Regions from separate parts of the Homo sapiens genome. Here region 1 is linked to region 2. A link means that fine-mapping ties the variant in region 2 to the expression of a gene that starts in the linked region. Tissue or cell type: whole blood. Region 2 holds a variant in brackets; the other region holds the start of a gene. Each region is shown on its reference strand, or each on the opposite one. Region 1 holds the start of TOPORS (TOP1 binding arginine/serine rich protein, E3 ubiquitin ligase). Region 2 overlaps IFT56 (intraflagellar transport 56).

The links.
Region 1: it holds the start of TOPORS, and the variant in region 2 is fine-mapped to the expression of TOPORS in whole blood (TOPMed, PIP above 0.99).

The regions. Positions count from the first base shown.
Region 1 is chr9:32,542,618-32,559,391 of GRCh38, forward strand. It overlaps TOPORS (TOP1 binding arginine/serine rich protein, E3 ubiquitin ligase), which reads right to left and starts at 9,969. Exons shown (of 3, transcript NM_005802.5): 1 at 9,817-9,969; 2 at 8,157-8,351; 3 at 1-1,709. The coding sequence starts at 9,819. It overlaps SMIM27 (small integral membrane protein 27), which reads left to right and starts at 9,710. Exons shown (of 2, transcript NM_001387564.1): 1 at 9,710-9,862; 2 at 10,184-10,390. The coding sequence starts at 9,818. The coding sequence ends at 10,306. NDUFB6 (NADH:ubiquinone oxidoreductase subunit B6) reads right to left here. Exons shown (of 4, transcript NM_002493.5): 3 at 16,293-16,337; 4 at 10,384-11,327. The coding sequence ends at 11,259. RefSeq lists silencers at 7,970-8,029, 8,530-8,749 and enhancers at 9,029-9,743, 9,390-9,599, 9,610-9,939, 9,744-10,457.
Region 2 is chr7:139,182,599-139,193,646 of GRCh38, forward strand. IFT56 (intraflagellar transport 56) reads left to right here. Exons shown (of 18, transcript NM_024926.4): 17 at 4,808-4,941; 18 at 6,723-9,388. The coding sequence ends at 6,834. Among named protein-coding and RNA genes, the nearest start is that of UBN2, 43 kb to the right of the region's middle. RefSeq lists enhancers at 187-786, 1,325-1,619. The variant C/G (reference allele first, on the strand shown) is at 7,072.

The sequences.
Region 1 (16,774 bases), not on the chromosome of region 2:
CTGCTACTTTCCCTGCTTCTGGATCGTTTACTTTTCATTCTTTTCTTCCCATGATGCTTTCTATGATTCTTCTGATCATGCCCACTTCTACTCTGAGAACGTGAATCTGAACTTCTTGATCTTCCCCTCTTTCTGTGTCTATGGTTATATGGAGAATATACTCTGTCTCCTCTTACAGATGAGTTCAGGTTTCTGGGAGATGACAATGATGTAGATCGTTTCTCTTCCTTCTTTGATTTGATTCTTGTACTAGAATCACAATGACCTTTATTTATTTGTTCATCCTTTCCAAGGACAGAGTGTGGAGATGAGCATCTACTAACATCGCTATCACCAGAACTGTAAGATTGCTCCTGTTCTTGTGTCTTCACTGTCTCCATTTTCTCATAAGAACCTAAGTCCTCAGAATCAGAGGACAGTTCAACAAGTTCTGGGGTCCTCTCAGCTAGTGGTTTAACAAACCCAACAATGACACAATTATCTGAAGAATCATCACTGTCATTATTTAGGTCGTCATTGGTTTGTACTCCTTGTATCTGAGACGTGGCTCCTCCTGTGACAAGTTCTTCATCTGAACTGTCAGAAGTATTTAAAAGAGAAGACATAGTAACGTGTACCTGCTCTGAGCTTGAGTAAGATGGTCCTGGAGTTTCATCATCCCATGGTGCCTGACTAACAGTGGCTACATTAATATCCAGCTCTTGGGTCTCAGCCTCATCTGGAGATATTGTTATGACTGAAGAATCAGAATGGCTGCCTTCTTCGTATGAAGGAGCAGGGCAATCATAATTGGCATGCTGGTCAAAGGCTGCCATGTTAAAAGGAGATCGGGCAAAACTGATAAATTCATGTATAAAATGCTCAGTTCGATTAAGTAAAAATGGTCTTAAATCAGACACAAATGCCTGACTCTCCAAGTCATAGCGAGTAACATTACTCATGATAATATGCTGGACAATATTCACTAAAGATCCATGAGCTCCAAAAAGAACTGTAAGTTCACGTTTTAACCAGGGGACTAATCTGTGAAGGCAAGCTGGATTTCTACGGAAAAATTCAGCTGAAATATCCCTGTAGCGGCCACCATCTTCAATATTTCTAACTCGAGCACCAGCACGATAAAGAGTTCGTCTAAAATTAATAATATCTTGTTCTTGAATTTTCCGCAAAGATCTTTCATCTGCCGTAGTTGGCCTCCTTACTGCAATCTGTCTCATAAACTGAGGAATTTCAACATCTCTAGGTCTTGTTGAAATGCCTAACCCTTCAAACAGTACTCCACTATCCGGTGGAGTTGTTGTTCTTCTGTTCACAGGACCACTAGGTGAATACACAGAAGCATTTCGTTCCCTTGTCAGAGTTGTACGGTAGCGAAATCGTCGATCAGGGGTGACAAAAGAACCATTATACGAAGGCCTTAGGACATACTCCTTGAAGTCATCTTCTGCCCTCACAGAATGGAAAATAGAATCAAAGGGCTGTTTACATAGTGGGCATTCAGCTTTGTTTTTTGACCACTCCTGTACACAGCGAAAACAGAACTTATGTAAGCAGCGATCTAAGTAAGACACATTATCAAATCTATCCAAGCATATAGGACACTTAGAATCAGGAGATGCATCAGCTGGTACTGTCTGTTGCAATTTGCTAGTGCCAGCTTTAGGTGAAAAGTTGTCCATTTTAAATTCCTTAGCAGCTGATGCCATTATCTGTAAAAGGGAAAGAAATATATCAGTAACCTGATAATAGAGGAATGACTAAATAGTCTCAACAAAAATGCAAATAAAGACCTTGAAACTTATTTTGGTGAAAATACTTAAGTGACCCATTACTTTTGTTTTATTTTATAAAGGGGCACTGTAGCATAGTAATATAGTGCTTAAAGCATAAGCTCTGAAGTCAGATTTCCTAAGACTGAATCCTGGTTCCACACTACCAGCGTGACTATGTGCCAGTTAGTATCTCTGTGCTTTAATTTCATCTGCAGGTCAGTGATAACAGAATCTGCCTTACAGGGTTTGTGAAGATGTAAAAAGCCCTTAGAAAAGGCACCTGCTACATAGTAAAGCTCTCAAATATTATGTAACATTCTATTATTCTTTTTAAAAATAATTTGAGAAATATCTGACATATAAAAAAAAAAAGTACCAAATACCCATGTATCCACCACTTATGTTATGCCCCTTATCTTCCCCTCCTATCACTCTCTAGAAAACAAAAAACAAAAACACCACACTCCTCAGTTGATGTTATTTCTATGCATGGCTTTATACCTTTCATATACATATGCCACTAACAATACAGACTACTGATTTATCTGTGATATTTTGTATGTACTTTTCTAAAACAACTTTGGTGACATAACTTACATACCAGAAAGTTCACCTGTTTAAACCAATCCTATGATTTTTAGTGAAAGATTCTTTTTTCAACCTTAGAAAGCTAATTTTAAAAAGGGAGAGGAAACTTTTAGTGAAGATTAAATAATAAATGAAAAAGCAGCCAAGAGGCAGTGCCTGGCTCACAGTAGGTGCTGAGTAAATGTCAGCTGTTATTATTACTACACTATTATATTCAGTTAATCACTCATTCCATTCAGCATTCCTAATAAGCCTTCCTTTAGCTTTTTTCTTTAATCCAAAAGTCAGGCCACAGAATATCTTGAAATCATGTTTTTGGTCCCCTTCCCTATTATCCTTTCCCATAAGGATGACTAGAATATTAAAGATTAGTTTGTTTTATCAGTTTACATTGGCTCAAAACTTTGCTAGAGCTTGAAATCTAGTATGCGTTTTGACTTTATCTCATAAACTCCAAAGCTGCATTTTATACTAATCATTTTGAGTATATTGACTATTGGGGAGTCAGGCGCGGTGGCTCATGCCTGTAATCCAGCACTTTGGGAGGCCAAGGCAGGCAGATCACCTGAGGTCAGGAGTTCAAGACCAGCCTGGCCAACGTTGTGAAACCTTGTCTCTACTAAGAATACAAAAATTAGCCGGGCATGGTGGCAGGCACCTGTAATCCCAGCTACTTGGGAGGCTGAGACAGGAGAATCGCTTGAACCCAGGAGGCAGAGGTTGCAGTGAGCTGAGACTGCACCATTGCAGTGGGTGACAAGAGTGAAACTCTGTCTCAAAACAAATAAACAAACAACAACAAAAAACTACTAGGCCCTTGGTTTCCCAGGGCCTAATATTCATCTTCCTCCACCTCCTTTATCACAGGAGGTTCCATCACTAGTCAACTGGGGTCAAGTTAATCAAATAACAGAATTGTAATTTTCTAAATAGACTCATTGGCCTTAACAAACTATAAGAAAAACCAATAAACAAAACCCACAACAAAAACTCATGACTGAAATACAAGTATTCCACCATAGCTTTCATATTAAACCTGCTCACTTTAGGGCATCTTGGCTTTCTCAGAACCATAACTTAATAGAGAATCAATTAATGCTAAATAAGCGTTTCTTCAGGGGTCCAGGTATGTCTAGTCTTCTATTTACTGGACTGAAAATGCAAAAACATCATCACTGTCCTGGAAGGTCTGGAAAAGCAGGATTATAAATACATAATACTGCTTTTTTGTTCATAAACAGTCTAAAACCCTAATACTGCACAACCTTCTCAGCATTTCCCTCTACTTTTAACATTTTTTAATCTGCCTACTCAAGAAATTTAAAGAAACACACACATAAAAATAAAAACCTTTCAGTTCAGAGACTGTGTGTGTGGTAGAGGGAAGGAACAGAGAAAAGTTGGGAGGGAATCAAAGAGGTTATCAAAAGATCTGGACTGAAGACCAGGCTTCACCTAGAACTAGCTCTAGTTAATGTGAAGAAAACCACATTACTCTAGACTTTAGTTTTCTCCTCTATATAATGAAGGGATTACTGGACTTGGAAAAAAGACCCGTGAATTCCAAGTTAATACATTTTATCTTCACTTAGTTCTCTGAAATAGAATTTTAGTGTTTTCTGAACACTTCCAGTTCACATAAAAATTACAGCTGAAAATGAATTTATTAAAGGGAATTATTAGGTAGTAAACTTGAAGTTCAAATAAAATAAAATCTCAACAAAGTATGATTTTTTTAAAAAAATGAAACCTTACCCTTCCCTTCTCTAGTTTTATAAGCCTGTTAACCACTTTGACAGTAAAAGGTGAATGAATGACTGGTAATGTCCTCCATAACAGGTTAAAAAATAATAATAAATTAGAATTCATTCTTGTATTTCTACACAGGAATCATTAGCTGAAAAGAATAATCTTAGCCGGGCATGATGGGCACACCTGTAGTCCCAGCTACTCAGGAGGCTGAGGCAGGAGGATTAACTGAGCCTGGGAGGTCCAGGCTGCAGTGAGCCATAATTGCACCACCTCACTCCAGCCTGGGTGACAGAATGAGACCCTGTTTCAAAACAAACAAACAAACAAACAAACAGTCTTCATCAGAAACATCAAAGAGGCGGGGCACGGTGGCTCACGCCTGTAATCCCATCACTTTGGGAAGCCAAGGCAGGAGACCCTTGAGGCCAGGAATTTGAAACAGCCTAGGCAACAAAGCGAGATCCAGTCTCTATTTTAAAAAAGAAAAAGAAACATCAAACAATTGGAATGCATGTAGATCAAATAAGTTATTAGCTCTTCAAAATCATCACTAAATACTAAATTAAAATGTTTTTTAAAACGCAAATGAAGTCGAACATATGACCCGGCAATTACACACCTAGATATACCCAAGGGAAACGAAAACTTGTCCACACAAAAAAACTGTATATGAATATTCACAGCAACTTTAGTCATAATACCTCAAAAGGAGAAACTCAAATACCCATCAATTGATTAACAGACTAATAAAATGTGGTCTATCCACACTATGGAATTTTATTTGGCAATAAAAAGGAACAAAGTACTGGTACCATGTTGTAACATGGATGAAACTTTTTATTATGCTAAATGAATGAAAAAAAAAATTCACAAGAACCCACATATTGTATGATACCTTTTATATGAAATGTCCAGAATAGGCAAATCTAGAGAGATGAAATGAGGCTGGTGGCTGCTGCTGGGGCAGTAAAGAGGTTTATTTCTGGGGTGATGAAAACGTTCTACAATTAATTATTGTGATGGTTGTACAACTCTGTAAATATACTAAAAAATCATTGACCTACAAACTTTAAACGGGTGAACTTTATGGATGGAATGTAATCTTTTATTTTATTTTTTTGAGACAGAGTCTTGCTGTGTCGCCCAGGCTGGAATGCAGTGGCGCGATCGTGGCTCACTGCAAGCTCCGCCTCCCGGGTTCACACCATTCTCCTGCCTCAGCCTTCCCAGTAGTAGCTGGGATTACAGGCGCCCGCCACCACGCTCGGCATTTTTTTTTTTTTTTTTTTTTTTTGTATTTTTAGTAGAGACGGGGTTTCACCGTGTTAGCCAGGATGGTCTCGATCTCCTGACCTTGAGATCCGCCCGTCTCGGCCTCCCAAAGTGCTGGGATTACAGGCGTAAGCCACCGCGCCCAGCCCGGAATGTAATCTTAACAAAGCTGTTTAAAAATACAAATTAAGGCATAAAAACTGGGATGACTAGATACAGATTAAGAGTGGTTGATTTGCTGGCCGGGCGCGGTGGCTCACGCCTGTAATCTCAACACTTTGGGAGGCTGAGGCGGGCAGATCACCTGAGGTCGGGAGTTCGAGACCAGCCTGACCAACATGGAGAAACCCGGTCTCTACTAAAAACACAAAAATTCGCCGGGCGTGGTGGCGCATGCCTGGAATCCCAGCTACTCGGGAGGCTGAAGCAGGAGAATCACTTGAACCCCCGGGAGGCGGAGGTTGCAGTGAGCCGAGATTACGCCACTGCACTCCAACCTGGGCAACAAGAGCGAAACTCTGCCTCACACACAAACACACACACACACACAAAAGAGTGGCTGATCTGCAAGAGACGTTCTGAATTTAAGTAGCAAAGGTAGACCCGATGAAAAACACAGTGCTTCAGGTTCTGTAAGAAGCCTGTGTTACGGGTTTTCCATCCTAGCACTCTAGGAATTAGGACATTTCCTCACAGGAGACAATCAGTTCTTCCAGTCACACTTCCTAAACTGTCTCCCAAATCCTAAATGAAGTTCACCATCTTTAGTATAAACTGATTAAGCCAAAACTTCCCTTTCCCGAAAAATCCTCAAATCTGGCTTTAACAAGGATAATAACAATTCGGGGAAATTTCAGCTAATTAATATGGACACACGTCTAGGGAAAATGGATGGGGGAGATAAAGAATCAGGAAGCTCGAATCTACATTTCAGGAGACTGGATATTTGAAAAACTGCACAATGATATAAACGAAGTATAACTGCTCTGTAGAATTAAAGTTAGACTTACTACAAAAGTCATCTATGGCCGGGCGTGGTGGCTCATGCCTGTAATCCCAGCACTTTGGGAGGCCGAGGTGAGCGGATCACAAGGTCAGGAGATCGAGACCATCCTGGCTAACACGGTGAAACCGTCTCTACTAAAAATACAAAAAATTAGCTGGGCGTAGCGACGGGCGCCTGTAGTCCCAGCTAGTCGGGAGACTGAGGCAGGGGAATGGCGTGAACCTGGCAGGCGGAGCTTGCAGTGAGCCGAGACTGCGCCACTGCACTCCAGCCTGGGCGAAAGAGCAAGACTCCGTCTCAAAAAAAATAAATCAATAAAAATCAAAAGTCATCTATGGCATACACTGTATATAAAATTTAATCATCTGCTGATTACATTTGCGGGAGTGATGTTAATTTTGCTGCAGAGCCAAGGCTGAGAATCGCCACCACTTAGTAGGTGTGTAACCTGGAGGAAGTTTTTTCTCAAAATCTCACGTTTTCTCAATTCTAAAATGGAATTGAAAAGGTGGTTGTGTGACGGGACATATTTCATAAAAACCCTTAGCACAGTGCTTGATGCACAGTAAGAACTCAACAATGTTCTCTATGTTACGTGAACACGAAGTGAATTTCGGTAGCTCATCACCCATAACTGATTATATGGGTCCAGACAGAGGATAGTTTATAACAACAAAATAATCATCATACTTAATATAATTATTATACTTAATATTTCTAGGCAAAGTGACTAAAAAGGGTTCACGAATAGATGAAATAGAAAGATCACCCAAGTATTAAAAATAAACTGGTTCCTACCTCTTGCCACCTTAAAGAAATCACTGTACCTCTCTGAACTGCATTTAATCAACTCCAAAAGAAGATACAAAAGTCACAGGATCTCAGTAGATCCTATCAAATTTATCCAGATCCTATCAAATTTAATCCAATTCCAGCAAAAAGAATTGGCTGGGAACCGTTCGCCTCTAAAACCACTCATTCCAGACAAGTATGATTGATTTTAGCTGATTGTATAGCTTTCTTTGCATTTCATGGACAAAACCCAGAAAGCTCTCACCACTATTAACTTAAATCTTGGGCAGCTGTTTCTTAATTTATCTTAAATAATCTTGAAAATTACCTATCAAAAGGTCTACTCCGTTTTCCTCTTAAATCACTATGTGGCTCATCTCAGCACTGCCCCCTTCCAGCCTACAATCAGCAACCCATGAGGAAAGCTGCAGTAAATGGATGGATGAACAAGTCACGGGCAATTTCTGCTCAGAATGTTTAACACAACACAGACAAGTCCCAACTCCCAAAGCCACGGTGATAGTCGTTTACTTTGGTTCAGAACTGCCACTAGACTAAGATAAGCACCATGAGCATTACATAACCACAACGAACTTAAATATTGTTATTCCCATTTTACAGACAGGCTCAGGGATTTAAGGGACCTAGGCAAGGTCACATATCCTGTAAGTGGTGACGCCACGATTCAGTCTCATTGCTTTTTTGCTTTTCCCTGAGACCAAGCTCTTTCCAGTACACGGCCAGGCTCGCGCCCCTCGGGAGCGCTTGTGGGAAGCGCAACCCTCGCCTGCCCGCACCAATCCACAGGTGCGCGCAGGAGCCGCTCGGGGGCCCTGGCCCTGGCCCGCCGAGGCCCGGACAGCCCCGCAGGCCATGACCGCAACCCTCGGGTCCCGAGGCGCCGCTCCAGGCGGGAGCGCCAACTCCCACGGCCCTTCCGACCCCCGCGTCCCATTGTTCCGAATCTCACTCACCTCGGAGGATGCCGGCGCAGGCCTGGCTGGGGCGCTCGCCGCGAGCTCCCGGCAGCCCAGAAAGCTAGGTCGGTGTCGGCAGGATCCGCGAAGGCGTACCCGGCGACTTCTCCGCCTACCCTCCGAAGCGGGAGCAGGCGGGGGCGCTTCACCCTCCTCGCGAGACAGCGGAGACCCCAGCGGCGGCTGCGACCCCTGTGACGCAAAGGGCTCATCACCAATGGCAGCTCGGAAGCAGGGCAGAGAGCGAGACCCACCCCCCAGCTCCCGCGCATCAAAACACAACACCCGCCTTCCTCACGCATGCGCAGCAGATGGACGCCGGCCTCGGGGGCGGGGCTCAGCGCACCGGCCCAAATGCGGCCCCTCCCCCGCCGCTCCAGACCCCGGAGGAGGGCAGCGCGACCCTCCCCATCTTGTTACTGGTACTCAGCCACTGGGGACACTGACTGAATGTTCGCCCCTAACTTACCCGGAAAACACGAGAACTAGTTCGATGTCGTTTCAACCTTACCAAACTCTGCGGAAACTTAGGAAATTATCTTTAGTGTCTAGATAGGGGAATTGTTAGATGGACTTGAAGTCTCTCACCTCCTGTTGTACGCCTCCCGGAAGCAACACCAGGAGTCCAACGGGATCCCAAACCAGAGCCCAACCAGTATCCTATAAAGTCTTCAGAGAGGGATCCCCTCCAGGCTGGGGAGAAACAGGACAACCTAACAAAACAGGGCCTGGACTCCTCCCTAAACAGACCACGTTTTTCTCCGCTCTTCCCCTTCCCACTCCCTGAAATCTAGACTAAAACTCTTTTAAGATAACTGCGAGGTATAAAGAACGTCTAGAGCCTAAGCGGCCCGTTGCCAGATTCTACTCCTCAGGCCTCAAATGTGAGCGCCCCAAACATTCTAGAGCTGAACCTGGTACGCTCGCCCACCAAACTGCCGTGCTCGGGGCTTAGTATCTCACGCGCGGCAGTTCAAGAACATCAGACACGCTCAACAAACACTTGTTGCTTGACTGATACATTATGGCGGGTAACGCGTCCCACGTATTTCTTCTTAGAGATATACATTACGCTATACGTTTCTGAAGAATGGCTCGATTTACAGGGGTTCCCACAACGATTTGTCACATATAAAAGAGTGGGTGGTATTTTTACGTCAAAGATGAACAGGCGAACGTCCATCTAAATCGTGTGGTATCAGATGCGGGGAGGCGTGGGGGAGGGAGCGGGGGAGAAAGCGTTAATTCTTCCAGCTTTAGAGCCAGACGTAATATTTAAAACGTGGATTGTTTTTCAAATTAACTTTTAAATGGACACGACAGCACCTTATCCTGCATTAATATTGCATTGCAACTAGAAAGAAAACCAGTGGAGGTACGCCTATCTCCTTAGTTGGCAAAAAAAAAAAAAAAAAAGCAATTTTTAACATTTTCTCGTTTATTCCCCTCTCTAAAAGGCGGGCAAGGCCCCCGATCACGTGATACCGCCCCCCAACTCCGGGCGGAAGAGGCCAGCGACAGCGCTGCACGAAGCGAGTGGGCGGGCGCTCGTGCCCGGCTAAAAGATGGCTGCTGGCGCCTGGCAGCCACCGCCTGGGAGGTTACTGTAAGGCCCGCAGCTCCCGCCAGCTCCCGCGGACTGCTGCCGCCTCCTTACCATGAAGCCAGTAAGTCGTCGCACGCTGGACTGGATTTATTCAGTGGTAAGTCCCGGGGATCGCGGGCCCCCACCGTGTCGACTCACTGGGCCCGCAGGCGGAAAGGCCCTATTTCTTCAGCACCCAGAAACTCCAAAATCCATTCCTGAATTAAGCATTTCACTCCCTCACCTCGACTCCGCCTCTTCCTGGAGGATACGATCTTCCGCTTCTTACGTAAGGGCTGCTGGGTGTACCCGCCACTGGAACCCCATTTATTCGACTTTGTTACTTTAATTCCCACCTTAGCAATGGCAACGGTAACCTGACGGGGGCGAGGGGAAATATCAGGTAGATTTCACACCTCCTTTGCGATTTTTGGTTTAGTTGCTGCTTGCCATCGTTTTAATCTCCTGGGGCTGCATCATCTATGCTTCGATGGTGTCTGCAAGACGACAGCTAAGGAAGAAATACCCAGACAAAATCTTTGGGACGAATGAAAATTTGTAACTCTTCTGGATTTAATTATCTGAAAATACAGTTCTTTCCCTCATGCTTATGTAGATATAAAAATAAAATTCATAATGCAAAGTTCCCAAGTTTATTTTTGCATTATCCTTTATAACAAGCACTAGTATGCAAATTTTTCACTTAGAGATTTTAGTATTTTACATTCTCATGACAAAATTAACAGCAACCTAAATCTGACAGTCTTGAGTGTCAGATCATAGTTGGAATAAGCTTTTCAATCAAGTTTCTAAATTCTTCAAAAATGATTCGGAAAGCTTTTTTTTTTTTTGAGACGGAGTCTTGCTCTGTCGCCCAGGCTCAGTGGCACTATCTCGGCTTACTGCAAGCTCCGCCTTCTGGGTTCACACCAATCTCGTGCCTCAGCCTCCGCAGTAGCTGGGACTACAGGAGCCCGCCACCACGCCCGGCTAATTTTTTTGTATTTTTAGTAGGGACGGGGTTTCACTGTGTTAGCCATGATGGTCTCGATCTCCTGACTTCGTGATCTGCCCGCCTCGGCCTCCCAAAGTGCTGGGATTACAGGCATGAGCCACTGCGCCTGGCCGGAAAGATTTCCTTAAAACAAAAGTGCATGGAATTGCTGTTCTTACATTTGTTTATTGTGATATTTCACTGTTGCATACCCTGATACCAAATTAGTGTAAGTACTGTGTAAGAAAAAAACAAACAAACATGTAACTAAATACTTTTCCATACCGTTTTCCAAGTCAAGAATGACCAGAAAAAGTAGGTAGTCTCTCATATTTGTTTAGCATGTCCACTTTTTACTTATTGTTAAATTACTCAGTCTCAAATTGTACAATGCTTGAAAACAGATATGACAATTTCTGAGATTAAACTTTATTAAAGTTACTTTTCCAGAAAATTCAGTAAATATGGTAATATAGGAACAAACTTAGGCTCATAAGCCTTTTAACTTTTTACATAATCTTTAATGATGTTGATCAGGAAATTCTTTCATTGGTGGAATTACTTCTCCAGTCTCCAGAATTGTATCACCCTAGGAAAACAAAGATACAGTTAGTACAAAAATCTTAAGTCTACAGAGGTGATAGTTCTATTCTGTTCTATGTTCATCAGATCTCACATGGAAAATGTACTTGAGTTCTGGCATTCCCTTTAAAAGGACCCTAGACAAAGTAGAAGCTGACTAAATCTGAACAATCAGTATTCAAAATTTTAAGGTATAGTGAAATAATAGGGAAATTTTCACTCAGAAACAAAATAATCAAAAAGGGCACGAAAATTGTGTTCTCTAAGTGATAAAGGGATAATCTTTTATTTTGTATGACCCCAATAAATGGAGGCCCCAGAAAGAAGTTGCAAGGAAACATCTGCAGTTCCAGATAAGGAGGTAATGTACCCCCAGCAACTGAATGTGTTACGCAATCACCAGTTTTCTGATTGGCTTACATACTGAATACAGAATACAAACTTTGGCTAGGCAGCTGGTCCAGATGTCTTTTCAATTCTTGATATAGATGTGGGCAAAAAGGCATGGGCATTGAAGCCAGAACCAAGTGGTAAGAATCTTGGAACCTCCACTGACAAGCTGTATAGTTTTAAGACAGATTATTCAATTTCAGTTTCAGCCATGTGTTTAAGATAGATTCTGTTAGCCTGCCAGTCCCTGAATGACTGGGAAGAGTAGAATTGTCCCCATACCCACCCCAATCCCTGCCATTCCCTGACCTGGTACTGCTCAGGATTATAGTCCAATGAAAAAATAAATATGTTTATGCCATTATACATTTGGGCAACAATTTGTTAGTACAGCTAGCATTATCCCAATAGAAATCATTGCCTTGAAGTGGCACTAATGCTGCTGTAATAAAAATCAAGCTATAGGGCACTGGCTTAGCAGTCTGGTAGCAAAGATAAAGATGGAAACAAAAGGCAGTGGCAAACTATTTAGCAAAATATCTCCTATAACTTGGAAGCTGACTGCCTAATGAACTTGAGGTTCTAGAAGAAGTAGCTGGGAAAAAAAGTTATAGTATGTGTTTGGATCCTTGGGATCCTTGGATGCCTTGGGAATGTACTTTAAGAAGCATGAGCTCAGGCAAAAAGTGGCTGATTTGAGAGGCGACATAAAAATGGAGAGGACGAGAGAACACTTTGGTGCACGCTAGAGACTTTCTGTTCCTGACCAAAAAAAAAAAAAGTTAATAGAATCTAAAAATTTGGGCCAGTCATGGTGGCTCATGCCTGTAATCCCAGCACTTTGGGAGTCCAAGGCAGGAGGATTGCTTGAGGCCCAGAGTTCAAAACCAGCCTGAGCAAGAGTAGGACCCTGTATCTAAAAAATAAATAAAAAATCAGGACCTTGTGGTATTGAAAAATCACACTACTTCAGAATTCCTAAACAATAAGTTAACACAAGAAATCTGAGCAACAGAAGCCCAATAAAACTCAAACAGAGGGACACAGCCCTATGGCAAAGATCAGTTTAAAATGAAGGTAGCCTTTGAACCAGTCTGCCTCAGATGGCCTCCACATAGCTGCCACAGAGGTGAGAGAGGCAGATGCATAAGGACAAAGAAATGAGACAAGCTGGTAACTGTGTATAGGAAAAACAGATACTGGCATGAGACACTGACTAGAAGTAAACACATTAGATGTCTACCAAATATTTTTCTTTTCATGCTTCTAAATGTTAAGGGAAATGGATGGACAAACCAAACATATAGTTTACAGAATCCTGCCAGAATGTTTGAAATTAAAACAACCTCTGGCATTCAACCTCCTGCAAGCAGGTGGCAGATTCTGAAGCCCATACAGCCCCCTAAGGAGGGCATGCTTCCCAATACCATTTAGATGTGGTCTAGGTAGATAATGAAAAGAACAAACCCCCTGGACAGAGCCAGGAACCAGGAAGAACGATGGATAAAGGTGTTCTTTCAAGAAAACAAAATCAGTGCCCATTCAAGTAATTTCTCACACACGGGTTAGGAGTGAGATTTCAGGATTGCCAAGAACCAGTGACTACTATGCTATCCAAATTCTACCACTGAACAATGGGTGTGGTTGGGGGACAAGGATACAGTTAACTTGTCTTCTTAGTTCACTGATCCTCAGATCAACAGAAGTCATATATAAACCTGACATACTATTTTACATCATCTGGAGATCATGGATTTGGGGCCGGGGTGCAATGATGGAATGGGACTTTGGGATTTCTCCCTAAGGAGAGAGACTAAGTGTGTTATGCATGGGTAAAGAAAGAAGCCAAGAGCTGTTTGGTGACTAGAAAGATGGAATGTAGCAGAAACTCCATGAACAGGGGTCTGGGAAATAGCAAAGAGCACACAGATAATATTTGGGAAGATGACAGTGAGTTTTAGCTAACAGAATTTGAGCAGAAGTGATGTAAGCTACTTCTAAGCTTAGATCCTAAAAATCATCCCCTGAGACATCCTGCCGTATCTTTGTATCACAATCTTGGAACCTCATATTCGATAGGCACGGCTGTAAGATTGAGGAAGATCACCTGATTCACAGTAGTCTGTGATGTCAACAAGAAATAAACCTCTGTTTTGTTAAGCCATTGAGATTTGGAAGTTTGTTATTACTTGTCCTATTCTAAACATATATACAATGAGCATTCTTCAGTTCCTCAAAGGGGTCATGGCACAGAAACAAGAAAGAACCACAGTGGCAAAAAATACAGAAATATGAGAAATGCTACAGGATCCCTGATATGGTCTTCTGAATAGAGCTCTCCTTTTCCTTTGAACAGTAAATGGCAAAATAAATTAACATTTAAATGGAATAAATGGAAGACTAAATAAATATAAATTGCCCAGCTGGAAAAACCAGCAAGATAATTTCCTATTTTGAGACTACCTAGGCTGTAACACACATCAATGTTACACAATAAAACAAAAGGAGAAATCCCCTACTTTTTTTTTTTTTTTTTTTTTTTTTTGAGGCAGGGTGCTCTGTCGCTAAGGCTGGAGTGCAGTGGCGCAATCTTGGCTCACTGCAACCTCTGCCTCCCAGGTTCAGGCAATTCTTGTGCCTCAGCCTCCCCGGTAGCTAGGATTACAGGCGTGCACCACCATGCCCAGCTAATTTTTGTATTTTTATTAATAGTAGAGATGGAGTTTCACCATGTTGGCCAGGCTGGTCTCAAAATCCTGACCTCAGGTGATCCACCTGCCTCTGCCTCCCAAAGTGCTGGCATTACAGGTGTTAGCCACCGCGCCTGGCCCCCACTTTTTTTTTTTTTTTTTCCCGAGACAGAGTCTCACTCTGTGACCCAGGCTGGAGTGCAGTGGCGCAAACTCCGCACACTGCAACTTCTGCCTTCCAGGTTCAAGCAATTCTTGTGCCTCAGCCTCCAGGTAGCTGGGATTACAGGCGTGCACCACCACACCTGGCTAATTTTTGTATTTTTTTTTTAGTACAGATGGTGTTTCACCATGTTGGCCAGGCTGGTCTCGAACCCCTAGCCTCAAGGGATCCACCCACCTCGGCTTCCCATAGTGCTGTAATTACAGGCATGAGCCCCCGATACCCCCTACTTTTTTTTTTCCTTTTTCCTTTTTTTTTGAGATGGAGTTTCACTCATTTCTGAGGCTGGAGTGCAGTGCCACGATCTCAGCTCACTGCAACCTCCGCCTTCCAGTTTCAAGCAATTTTCCTGCCTCAGCATCCTCAGTAGCTGGGATTACAGGTGCCCGCCACCACGCACGGTAATTTTTGTATTTTTAGTAGAGACGGGGTTTCACCATGTTGGCCAGGCTGGTCTCGAAGTTCTGACCTTGTGATCCACCCACCTTGGCCTCCCAAAGTGCTGGGATTACACGCGTGAGCCACCGCGCCTGGCCCCTCCCCCAACTATTTCTTAAACCAGCGTTCCAACTGGGACCGCTGGCCAGTTTTGGTGGCCCTTCCTAAAATTCCCCTGTTGCAACAGATAATCATTACTGTGACTAAGTCATTTGATTAAAGCAAGAATCACACTTTTGTTATTTAAATTGTGTACTTTTGAGTTATGATAGTTCATTATCTGTGACTAGAAATAGACAAGAACATAGTATGTATTCTACTATGCTAAACAATAACCTCACAAACAGCTAGTAAATACCAACTGACTACTGAGTCACCTTTTAATGCTAAAATAACTCATTTCAAATTAGTACTATAGCTCACACATTCATAGTATACATTTTTTTTTTTTGAGACGGAGTCTCGCTCTGTCACCCAGGCTGGAGTGCAGTGGCGCAACCTCGGCTCACTGCAAGCTCCACCTCCCAGGTTCACGCCATTCTCCTGCCTCAGCCTCTCGAGTAGCTGGGACTACAGGCGCCCGCCACCACGCCCAGCTAATTTTTTGTATTTTCAGTAGAGACGGGGTTTCACCGTGTTAGCCAGAATGGTCTCGATCTCCTGACCTCACGATCCACCCATCTTGGCCTCCCAAAGTGCTGGGATTACAGGCATGAGCCACTGTGCCTGGCCCATAGTATAAAATTTAAAACACCCATTAGTGGATATTAAATTCACAGATGGAGAACTTAAGGTCAAATCTTGAAAATGAGGTACAAAGCCATAGGACATGAGAGTTTGGAATTAATAACAGAAATTCAGTTGCTGTCACCATGCATGGATGTTTGCTTAGGCTCATGCCCTAAGCTCTTTACCCAACATGAAACAGGACACAGTGAAAAACTTTTGGTACTTTCAACTCCCTTTAGGAAAATCAAGGTCACAAAACACGTTTTACAGCCAGGTTGAAAATAAATGTGCTCACTTCCCATTTGAACTGTAATTGTTACCTCACGGTATTTCTTCCTGTTTTTTTTTGTTTTGTTTTGTTTTTTACAAGAATACACAAAACAGGGACTTAAACCGAAAGTGAGAAGGAAAGAACATTTTAATCTAATAATTGCTTGGAAAGGGAGGAAAAGGAAAGAGAAAAACAATAAACAAAAGAAAAATCAGAAGTGTTAAGACTTACAGGGAATATTCTGGACTTCTTTTCAACTATGCCATATGGTTTTTCCTGTAATAAAAGTTAACTCTGTGTTAATTATGGTGTTAAGAGTTTCTTCTGAAAATAAGAAATAGGTCATACCCCAAATTTTAACTTAAGCTCCAAACTTTCACAGAACTCCAGATTCACATATCCAACTGTTTACTCAACATCTCTACTTAGCTATCAAACAGGCATCTCAAACTTAACCAGGTCCCACACTTAACTTCTCCCATCCCCAAACTGTTCCTCCCCATGTCCCCCATCTCAGTAAATGACACTCTTATTCCCCCAGTTATGAAAGACAGAAACCTTGACTCCTCAGCAGAGCCTGTTAATTCTATCTTAAGAATATACCCTGAATCCAACTGGTTCTCATCACCAGCCTTGTCCAAGCCTCTATCATATTTTCACCTCAACTACCACAACAGCACCTACTAGCCTCCCTGCTTCCACTTGTGCCCTCC
Region 2 (11,048 bases):
AATGTAGATTTAGAAGTTAACCGTAGTTAGTGGTGGTAGTAGCAGCAGCAGGAGCAGCAACAGCCAAGTATGAGAGAGAATAAGATTAGCCAGTAAATGGGGTGAGGAACCTTGTGGAAACCAGTGTTTAAGGGCTGGAAAGAGAAGGAAGAGTAAATGAAAGAGAGGATGAACAGAAGAGAAGGAAAACAATGAGGACAGGAAAAAAAATGCTTTTCATTACTTTTTCTTGCTCCCATTTAATCAAAAACCAAGGCAGGAGAGTGTCAAATCTGCAACTGGATAGAAATGCATGAGGACTGAGAAGACAGTAAGAGGTAGAGAATAGAGTCAGATTACAAAGCAGATGCAGCTAGTGTAATGTAGACCACAGTCTTAAAAAATTTGATATTAAAAATAAGAAGGAAAAATGTAGTGCTAACTTAAATGGAAAATCAGGGTTTGGAATTGCGGGGGATGGGGTGGAGAGTTCTTTTAGAATGGGGATAGGGGAGTATATCTGTAGGCAGAAGAAAATGAGCCATTGAACAGTAAGATTAAAGATTCAGGAGGATGGGGCATTTTTGATGGAGTTAGGCCCTGAGGAGATGAGAGGGGAATAGGGTTAACATCAAAGGAAGATAACTACTTGAAAAACAAGTTGGCATTACCTACTGTCTCAGTGGTCCCATGACCACCCACTAGTTTGGTGATTTACTAGAAGGAGTCATACGACTCAACATAAAGTTATACTCATGGCTAAAATTTATTACACTACAGGAACAGCAGGAAAACGATGGGTGTAGGTGAAGGCTAGAGAAGCCAAATACAGGTTTTCTTATCTTCCTTTTGTGGGGATCACACAGTCAAGTCTTTATCAAGCATATGTGTGAGGTCCTTGTCAAAGAAAAACAAAGAGAATAAGGGGGGAAATGGCAGAATTAAGCCCTAACATGTCAATAATTAAATGTAAATGGTCTAAGTATGCCTATTAAAAGACATCTATTGAGAGAGTGGATTAAAAAACATAACCCAATTATGTGTTCTCAACAAGAAATTCACTTTAAATATATTTACATAGGTCAAAAATAAAAGGATAAAAAAAAAAAACCAACCATGAAATACTTTGGCAGTTTCTTTAATAAACATACTTACCATATGACCCAGCAATTGCATTCCTGTGTATTTATCCCAGATAAATGAAAACCTATATCCACAGAAATATATAAATGTTAATAACACAAATTTTAATATTTAAATGTTAATAGCAGCTTTATTTGTAATAGCCTAAAACTGGAGACAAAGTCTTTCAGCAGGTGAATGGTTAAACAGATGGGTTTGGCATGGAATACTACTCAGTAATAAAAAGGAACTATAATGAGAAGTCTGACTCCATTTCTGGATGTTTGACTGCTGACAGCTTTTAAGCCTCACCCCTGCCTCTTCCCGTTGTGCCCCGCATCTGGACAAAATGATAAGAAAACCTACGTGCTCCCTTCTTTGGCACCATAGGGTGATTTAAACCACACAAGCCCCTGCCCATGCACAGGAACCTTCACCACGGCCCCACCTCCTAACCACAGTAAACACCAAGGCCAGTCTCCTTTCCTTGCTTTCTCAGGCCTTTTCAGATCTGCTTAATAGGGCCGTTCTACTCTCCCTAGGCTTCAAGTATGTAAGAAAACGTTTCATATCCTCTTGCTGTGTGTGTGTGGCGTCATCAGTTTCACCATCCAAACCAAACTTTGGTTGGGAGTCCCTGTTGCATTTGCAGGGTGACCAGAACAGGAGCAAGCTATTGGAACACACAGTAACTTGAATTAACAGGGAATAACAAGGACATTATACTGAAGGAAAAAAGCCAGTTTCATAGGGTCCCATACTGTTTGCTTTCATATATGTAACATTCTTGAAATGACAAAATTATTGAGATAGAGAACAAATTAGTGGTTGTTAGATGTTAGGGATGGTGAGCAGGGAGGGCTGTGCATGTGACTGTAAAAGGGTAACAAGGGAAATCTTTGTGGTGATATAATAGTTCTGCATCTTGGTCAGGCACGGTGGCTTATGCCTGTAATCCCAGTACTTTGGGAGGCCAAGGCAGGAGGATTGCTTAAGGCCAGGAGTTCAAGGCCAGCCAGGGCAACATAGTGAGACATCGTCTCTATAAAACATTTTTAAAAAGCAGCTGGGCAGGCCGGGCGTGGTGGCTGATGCCTGTAATCCCAGCACTTTGGGAGGCTGAGGCGGGCGGATCACAAGGTCAGGAGATCGAGACCATCCTGGTTAACACAGTGAAACCCCGTCTCTACTAAAAATACAAAAAATTAGCCAGGCGTGGTGGCGGGCGCCTGTAGTCCCAGCTACTCAGGAGGCTGAGGCAGGAGAATGGCGTGAACCCGGGAGGTGGAGCTTGCAGTGAGCCGAGATCGCGCCACTGCACTCCAGCCTGGGTAACAGGGCGAGACTCCATCTCAAAAAAAAAAAAAAAAGTAGCTGGGCATGGTGGCTACCTCAAGAGGCTGAGGCAGGAGAATCACTTGAGCCCAGAAGTTCAAGGTTGCAGTGAGCTGTGATTGCCTTATTGCATTCCAACCTGGATGACAAAGCAAGACCTTGTGTCCAAAAAAAAAGAGTAATTCGGTATCTTGATAGTTGTATGGCTGTGGTTACGTGAATCTACACATAGGATGAAATAACAGGACCATCATCAACATACACGGTACCAGTGTCAATTTCCTGATTTTTATATTGTGATATTTTACTATCCTTATTTAAGCTGTAACCTTTGGAGGAAACTAGGTGAAAGGTACACATGACCTCTGTCCTATCTTTGTCCATGGATCTATAATTATTAATACTTCAAAATAAAAAAATTTTTTAAATGAATCAACTAGAGCTATATACAGCAATATAGGTGAGTCTTATAATGTTGAATCATAGGTACAAGACATAATAGAATATTTACAGTATTCGTTCATATAAAGTTCTGAGAAGCAGAACTCAATTATATTGTTTAAAGATGTGTATACTTAAGAGAGAACATAAAAGTCAGAAGAGTAGTTACCTCTGGGTATGGAAAGAGAGAGTTATGGTCTGGAAGTGACACACAGAGAGCTTTTGTGTTGCTCTCAGTGTCTTGACCTGGGTAGTGTTTACAGTATTTTCACATTATAATTAGTAAGATGTACATGGATGTTTCATTTACCATCCTGTATGTGTGTTATTTCACAATAAAGACTTTTTTTAAAAAGAGTACATAAATAGAAGGACAAACCTTGAAAATAAAAAAAAATCTTCGCGTGAGATTAGGCAGAAAGGAGGAAAGGAAGAATGAAGGTGTAAATATAATTTGAACTGAAGAGAAGAAAGTTGTGTTTTCCCTATGAAGTACAGAATAAGGCTAAGCTAAGAAGGCTGTCTTAAGGAAATTGTCAAAGATTTAGAAAAACATCTGTCAGGAATAAAGAAGTAACTAAACCATAAAGAGAGTTGCCCAGCAATTTGAAGCCTTAAGTGAAATTGGTAACAGTATGTATTTATGATTGCCAAGTAAGAAAACTCATCTGGCCAGGCGCGGTGGCTCAAGCCTGTAATCCCTGCACTTTAGGAAACCAAAGTGGGAGGATCACTTGAGGCCAGGAGTTTGAGACCCACCTGGGCAACATAGTGAGAGCCTGTCTTGCAAAAAATTAAAAATTAGCTGGGCATGGTGGTGTACACCTGTAGTCCCAGCTGCTTGGAACACTAAGGCAGGAGGATCTCTTGAGCCCAGGAATTTGAGGTCACAGTGAGTCATGTTGGCACCACTGCACTCCAGCCTGGGCAATAGTGCAAGATCCTATCTCTAAAAAAAAAAAAAGAATAAAAATTTTTTTTAAATAAAAGAAAACTAATCTAAGCAAAATTTAATGGCATTCAACATGTTCTATGAGGCCAAGGAAATGTGTAGTACATTTGGGAAAAATGTCTGTCAAAATGCATTAAACATTTAAAAGATTTAGTGTTTAGAATAGTAGTCAGTATACATCTAAGCATTCTGAGAATTTAGGAACAAGACTAGGGAAAGACCATCCTGGAGTTGAACATGATCAAATTAGCATAAAATGAATGATAGTAGTCATCTGAAAAGAATGTACTGAAGAGACTTGAAAAATACTCAGTTCAAATCACAATCCTCAGTTTATCCTCAAGATTAGAAGACAATTAGAAGAAAAGGCAAAAGTGCTGATTGTGGCCGGGCGCGGTGGCTCACGCCTGTAATCCCAGCACTTTGGGAGGCTGAGACGGGTGGATCATGAGGTCAGGAGATCGAGACCATCCTGGCTAACAAGGTGAAACCCCGTCTCTACTAAAAATACAAAAAATTAGCCGGGCGCGGTGGCGGGCGCCTGTAGTCCCAGCTACTCGGGAGGCTGAGGCAGGAGAATGGCGTGAACCCGGGAAGCGGAGCTTGCAGTGAGCCGAGATTGCGCCACTGCAGTCCGCAGTCCGGCCTGGGCGACAGAGCGAGACTCCGTCTCAAAAAAAAAAAAAAAAAAAAAAAGTGCTGATTGTAGCATAATTTGACTCTATGTAGAAAAAATGTTATACTGTTGAAAACTGAGTGAACATAAGGTAGTTTAAACTGAACCCATGTACCCAAACTGTAATTTTCCTTCTTATTGTTTTAATTGGGAATTGAAGTTTTTCTAACTTGCTAACTGAAAATGTTGTCAGCACCCATGCACTTATTTCATACAGTCCCGTTTCATGTTATCTTTATGTTCAGGTTCTTTCTGTGCAATCTCTTTACTGCAAGTATTACCACATACGTTCTCTTATTCAGATGGGCCAGTTTTACTATTCTGCCAAAGCTTTTGATGTCCTTGAGAGGCTGGATCCTAACCCTGAATATTGGGAAGGCAAACGGGGTGCCTGTGTGGGCATTTTCCAGATGATCATAGCTGGGAGAGAACCCAAGTAAGTAAACAGGCAAGAAATACTACCTCTACTCATTTGCTTGTTTGTGAGGGAAAATACTTGTTCTCTTGGATGATATCTTCTGAAAACACATGATTATAATGATGTTTTAGAATGATGAAAAAAAGGTTGATATTAAATATTTCTGTCTGACCATTTTCCTCCAGAAATCTTTCATTTTGTAGAATCAGATAATTCTAAATCATATATAATAGGATCAGATCATTCTAAGTCATATATACATTAAGTACACTAACAGCCTCCAAATATAAGAGCAGGATGTATATTTGGTTCCAAATGAACAGCCATTTTTATAGGCAAAGTGTTTTTTTTTTTTACTCTTCTACTCTTTTGGGTTTTTTGTTTGTTTTTTGTTTTTTGCCTATTGGCTTTTTCTTGTGTGCTTTAGTTTAGGTCTCAAAAAATTAGGAATGGAGTAGATGTGGTTGATAACTCTTTTGTTTTCTTTCACCTTCTCATATTCTAGGAAATACTGAGACATTAGTTTACATAAAATTAATAAAATTCAGTGGTTTATACTTTTTCTTTTTTTTTTTCTTTCTTTCTTTTTTTTTTTTTTAGATAGAGTCTTGCTCTGTTGCCCAGGCTGGAGTGCAATGGTGTGATCTCAGCTCACTGCAACCTCTGCCTCCCGGGTTCAAGTGATTCTCCTGCCTCACTCTCCTGAGTAGCTGGGATTACAGGCACGTGCCACCATGCCTGGCTAATTTTTGTATTTTTAGTAGGGGCAGGGTTTCACCATGTTGGCCAGGCTGGTCTCAAACTCCTGACCTCAGGTGATCCTTCCACCTCAGCCTCCCAAAGTTCTGGGATTACAGGCATGAGCCACCATGCCCAGCCTATAGTTTCATTTGAAACAAACATTAAAACACAACTCGATTCCATTTTCTAAAAATAACTTCATGGAATGTATTTATTACTGATACATGAATAGGAAATGTGTTAATTTTGTAAGAAAATAATCTATCAAAAATTACTTCCTACCTTATAGTACTTCTAGTTCTAAGTAAAAGTTTAAAAACATTTGGTTAGGTGAAAGAGGTTGTTTGTGGGGAAAAAGAAGTAGAAAATATGAGAAGACTCTTAAGCAAATAGGTTCATAGGCAGTCGCCTACAGATTTGCTAGGGCAATAAGGAAATTTTAGCATTCATTACTTAAAATATGTTTTAATTTTAATTAAATTTAAATTACTTCAAATATAAATGCTAGGCTTAGTCCTTAATGTCCATCTCTTCCATTTTATTCATGTATTATTTTTCTTGAAAAAATCCCTTATTCCTTTGGCTTTGTAAAATTTTATGAATTTGACAATGATGCCTAGTTGAAGGTGGTTACCACCTTAAACAAGGGAGAAATCCATGAGTTAGACAAATTAAGTGACTTGCTGGTGTTAGAGCTAGAACTTGAACCCCAACTTCTGGATATACTCTTTCTAGTCATGCAGAATAAGAATAGAAATGGGAATAGTTAGGTCATCTCAGAAAGGACAAAAAGATTATCAGTATGTATATAGGTAGTATGGATAAACAAGGAACACTTGGATTGGCAAGAAAGATTTCACATAATTTCCATTTTACTATGCCACAATAAGAACATAAGGCTAGGCAGTTTGTAATTGCTTTGTGAATACACAGTGAAAGAGTCTATTACCAAAAATGCCCTACAAGACATACAGTATGAAGGACAGTTCAGAGTTTATTTTATTTTTTAATTTTCATTCTTCATTGAAACACTTTGTCTTTTCAAATCTTTTCCTCAGAGAGACCCTTCGAGAAGTGCTCCATTTACTGAGAAGCACAGGTAACACCCAAGTAGAATACATGATCCGGATCATGAAGAAATGGGCCAAAGAAAACAGAGTGTCCATCTAAAATAGCGCCAGCGTCCTAGGAACCAGCTTCTACTTTGACATAAAACTGGAAATCATTTTCACTCCAGTTTAATCTGTGATACAGGGCTCTGTTTTATTGACATTTTCCTTCCTTGCTCTTTAAGCCTCAAGGTCAGAGACTGACTTGCTGAGACTTAGTCTCCTGGCTGAACAGAGTGCCATAGTCTGTGACCCTGTATGATCCTAGTAGCAATAAGATTTTGGACTTATCTGGTGC[C/G]TTTCTTCCAAAAATGCTCAGAGTACTTTTATGCAATTTACTGACTTTAAGGAAAACAGTATAACTTTTTTTTGTTAGCATTTTATGGCATTGTCTCCTGGCTGCAATAACAAACATCTTTGATGTTCAAGAATCAGCATCATTGTATCATTTAACTTTAAGGCGTCTCTGTACGTTATCCCATTTTATTGGGGAATTCCATAAAGGGTTTTATAACGTCATCTCTGAATCTTGGGAGAATAACTAGCTATGTGTTTCTAAGAAAGGCAGTAAGCTACTTTATCAAACTGTCCAGTCATTAATAGGATAGATTTATGGGATTACTCTTTCAGTAATTAAATTGTTGATGATAATAACATGTTACAGCGCAGTAAGATGAGTATTGCAATGTTTTAAAAGGTGAGTACTATGAAAAAAATTGTAGTACCTCTAAAGGTATTCAAGAAACAATGTTTATGAATCTCACTAGTCCATTATAGTTTGGTACCATAATTATTTTAGGTAACAAAGCAGGTTAGGTTTTTGTTAATGTATCTTGCTTAACAAACATCAGTTTTTGTTGTTGTTGTTGTTGTTGTTGTTGTTGTTGTTTTTGAGACGGAGTCTCGCTCTGTCGCCCAGGCTGGAGTACAGTGGTGCGATCTCGGCTCACTGCAAGCTCCACCTCCTGGGTTCACGCCAGTCTCCTGCCTCAGCCTTCTGAGTAGCTGGGACTACAGGCACCCGCCACCGCGCCCGGCTAATTTTTTGTATTTTTAGTAGAGACGGGGTTTCACCGTGTTAGCCACAATGCTCTCCATCTCCTGACCTCGTGATCCGCCCGTCTCAGCCTCCCAAAGTGCTGGGATTACAGGCATGAGCCACCGCGCCTGGCCCAAACATCAGTTTTGAAAGTAGGGCTACAGTGATTTATATGTATTGTGGGCACTTATTAATGTAACGATAATAAAACATGAATCGTATAAAGTCCTTTGAGGGAATCTCCTAATGGCTAGGCTCTCTGTCGTAAGTCATATTCCAGCCCCAGGCTTCTGAGCTCTTATAACATACAACTGAGCATTCTTAAGCTCACAACCTATTTCCAGAAAAGAGACCCACATCTTTCTATGTTTTATACTACCTTTGTTTTTACACCATATAGTTTTTTTCTATTAGTTTAAGGTACCTAGTGTTACAGGTCTAGAAAGTGCAGAGCCATCCCTACCTAGAAGAGAATAGATGGGAAGAGAACTGAAAGAAAGAATTCCTCAAGCACTGAAGTCAGGAAAATCCCCGTAGGCACTGTATTAGTTGTTCCATTTATCCCAGCACTCCACTTGTGGATGAAGGAGTTGTATAGAAAGGAGATGAGAAAATGGCAGGAGTGGAAGCAGCCAAGAAGAGATCGATGACTGAAGATCTCCTTCACCTTCAGGACTGTCTCAAGGGGTTATTTCACCTCTACTCATGAGGATGGCCAGTTTTTCTGTCTTTTATCTTTAGACCCATATATAATCAGTTCAGAGCACAAATCAAAATAAACTGGCCTAAATAACTGAATTCTAGGAAGCAAAGCTACATCTTTTTTCATATGCCAAAGCTTCTGTTTCCTCATGTTGTTCCTACTTTTTAAATAATAAATGGCTCTCAGCATCTTAGGAACTAGATGGGTCCCATCTGGGTAGAACCTGCTATAATTTTTAGAATCACTCTTGTAATTCTTACCTCACTTAAAATATTAGGAAACACAGTAATAGAAAAGACAGGGAGAACTCGTCTGCAGGTTTTGGCAGTGAAATTTGTCTTCCAGTGAATTGCTATTATTTTCAAATTGCCTATAGTCAAAAAGCTTTTCCATTGATGGAGACTTACTTTCAAATGAGCTTGTGTTGAATTCAGCACTCTAGATTCTCTCTGACATTTTCCTGTCTTTTGGGAAAAAAAAGCAGATATTCCAAAAATGGCAGAAATCTAATTTTTGTAAACTTTTTCATCTATAGGATTGAGCCAAAAAACATACATACTATTTTAAAGAAAGGTACCATCTAATTCTTTTATTAAAGATAGCTACTTCTGAAATGTCTTAACAGAGTTTCAAGATTGCAAAGTAGTATTGCATAGCTGGTTTTCTTACATGTGATGATGGAGGAGAGAGGAAGACCCAGACTTAGGCATGTAGTGAAATATGTACAGTTTCTGGCATCAGTGTACTATTTATAGTCTATAGCATACATTACTTGCAAATGGGAAAAGTATTTTATAATTATTTTTGTACCTCAAAATAATTATTATATTCTACTGTATTATATTCAAATTAAAGTTTATTATTTGATTCTTAGTATGATATTCTGTTGAGTGTGATGAGGGTGGGACCTAAGTATGTCATGTGCCTTCTACCCTTTCTTTCCTAGCCCTAGAATGAAAGGAGAGAAAGTTTTGGGCCCCATAAGTTACTCTTTAGAAGAGAGAAAAGTACATATTCCCCAAGAAGCCCTTTCCACTAAGAGGCTGGTAGTTCCTGCTGAATCATACTAGGCTTGGCTCTTTGCTGAATTACAGCCCATTCAGAAGTTATATGACCAGTGCATAGTGTAGTACCTCACACATAGAAAGCTCTCACATACTTGTTGACTGAATAATTAAACATACAGTAACTGGTAGGGCAAGTGACTTGTGAAGTCTAACCTCATATATTCAGTTCCCATTGAATTATTATTTTATTGTGTGCTAAGCATATGCCAGGTACTTGGGCTGCAAAGATAAATAATGCACAGGCCTGACTCTCAAGGAACTCTAACAGAAGTATACACAACTAAACACAACAACGTGATTGATATCATCAGTGGGAATAAAGTATTGAGCAATAAAAGAAGGCAATGGAATGTTTGTATCCGTGTAAATGAGATGCCCCCTGCCTCATTTGGGAGAAGCAATCAGAATGGATCCCAAAGCTCAACAGCTAGCAAGATGCCCACAGCTCTGCCATGTGTGCCACACACATCACATGCATCCAAGTAGACGGAAGCCAAGGGACTGCTTTCCTCCTCTGTGGCTTAGTGCACTTTCAGAAAGGTGCTAGCAAACAGGCATGATATCACAATAGTTACATCTACTTTCTAATGGCAAAAATGAAGTAGTGATTTACTAGATCCTGTATTGAGAACATCTGTGTCTTAGATGAATAGTTGTCTTACGACTCTTTTCTTCATCCTATAAAATACTTCTAGGCTGGGCATAGTGGCTTATGCCTGTAATCCCAACACTTTGGGAGGCTGAGGTGGGAGGATCACTTGATGCCAGGAGTTCGAGACCAGCCTGAGCAACATACCAAAACCCTGTCTCTACAAAAAAAAAAAAAAATTTTAATTAGCCAGGTGTAGTGGCACATTCCTGTCATCCCAGTTACTTGGGAGGCTGAGAAGGGAGGATCACCTGAGACCAGGAGTTCAAGGTTATAGTAGGTACTTTATAATAATGTTCAAACAGTACTCCCGACTATTAAGATGGTCTCAGAGCAGCAGAGCTAGGGACTTAGTGACATGCCTGTAAACTACCTTAACACAGAGCTTCTGGAATATGAGAAGAATAAAAGACAGCACACAACAAAATGAATGTCATCAGTCAATGTGTGTGTGTTGAGTGTGGAGTGTGTAGAGAAGTTTGCACAATTTGTTGCCATCAAAACTTTTTCTTTAAATGAAATCTGAATACCAAAAACACCTAGGGGCTGATTTGGTGATTGTGGTGAAGGAGGAAGGAGATGGCCGGTCACGGTGGCTCACGCCTATAATCCCAGCACTTTGGGATGCTGAGGCAGGTGGATCATGAGGTCAGTAGTTCAAGACCAGCCTGGCCAACATGGTGAAACCCTGTCTCTATGAAAAAATACAAAAATTAGCCAGGCGTGGTGGCAGGCACCTGTAATCTCAGCTACTCAGGAAGCTGAGGCACAAGAATCACTTGAACCTGGGAGGCAGAGGTCGCAGTGAGCCGAGATT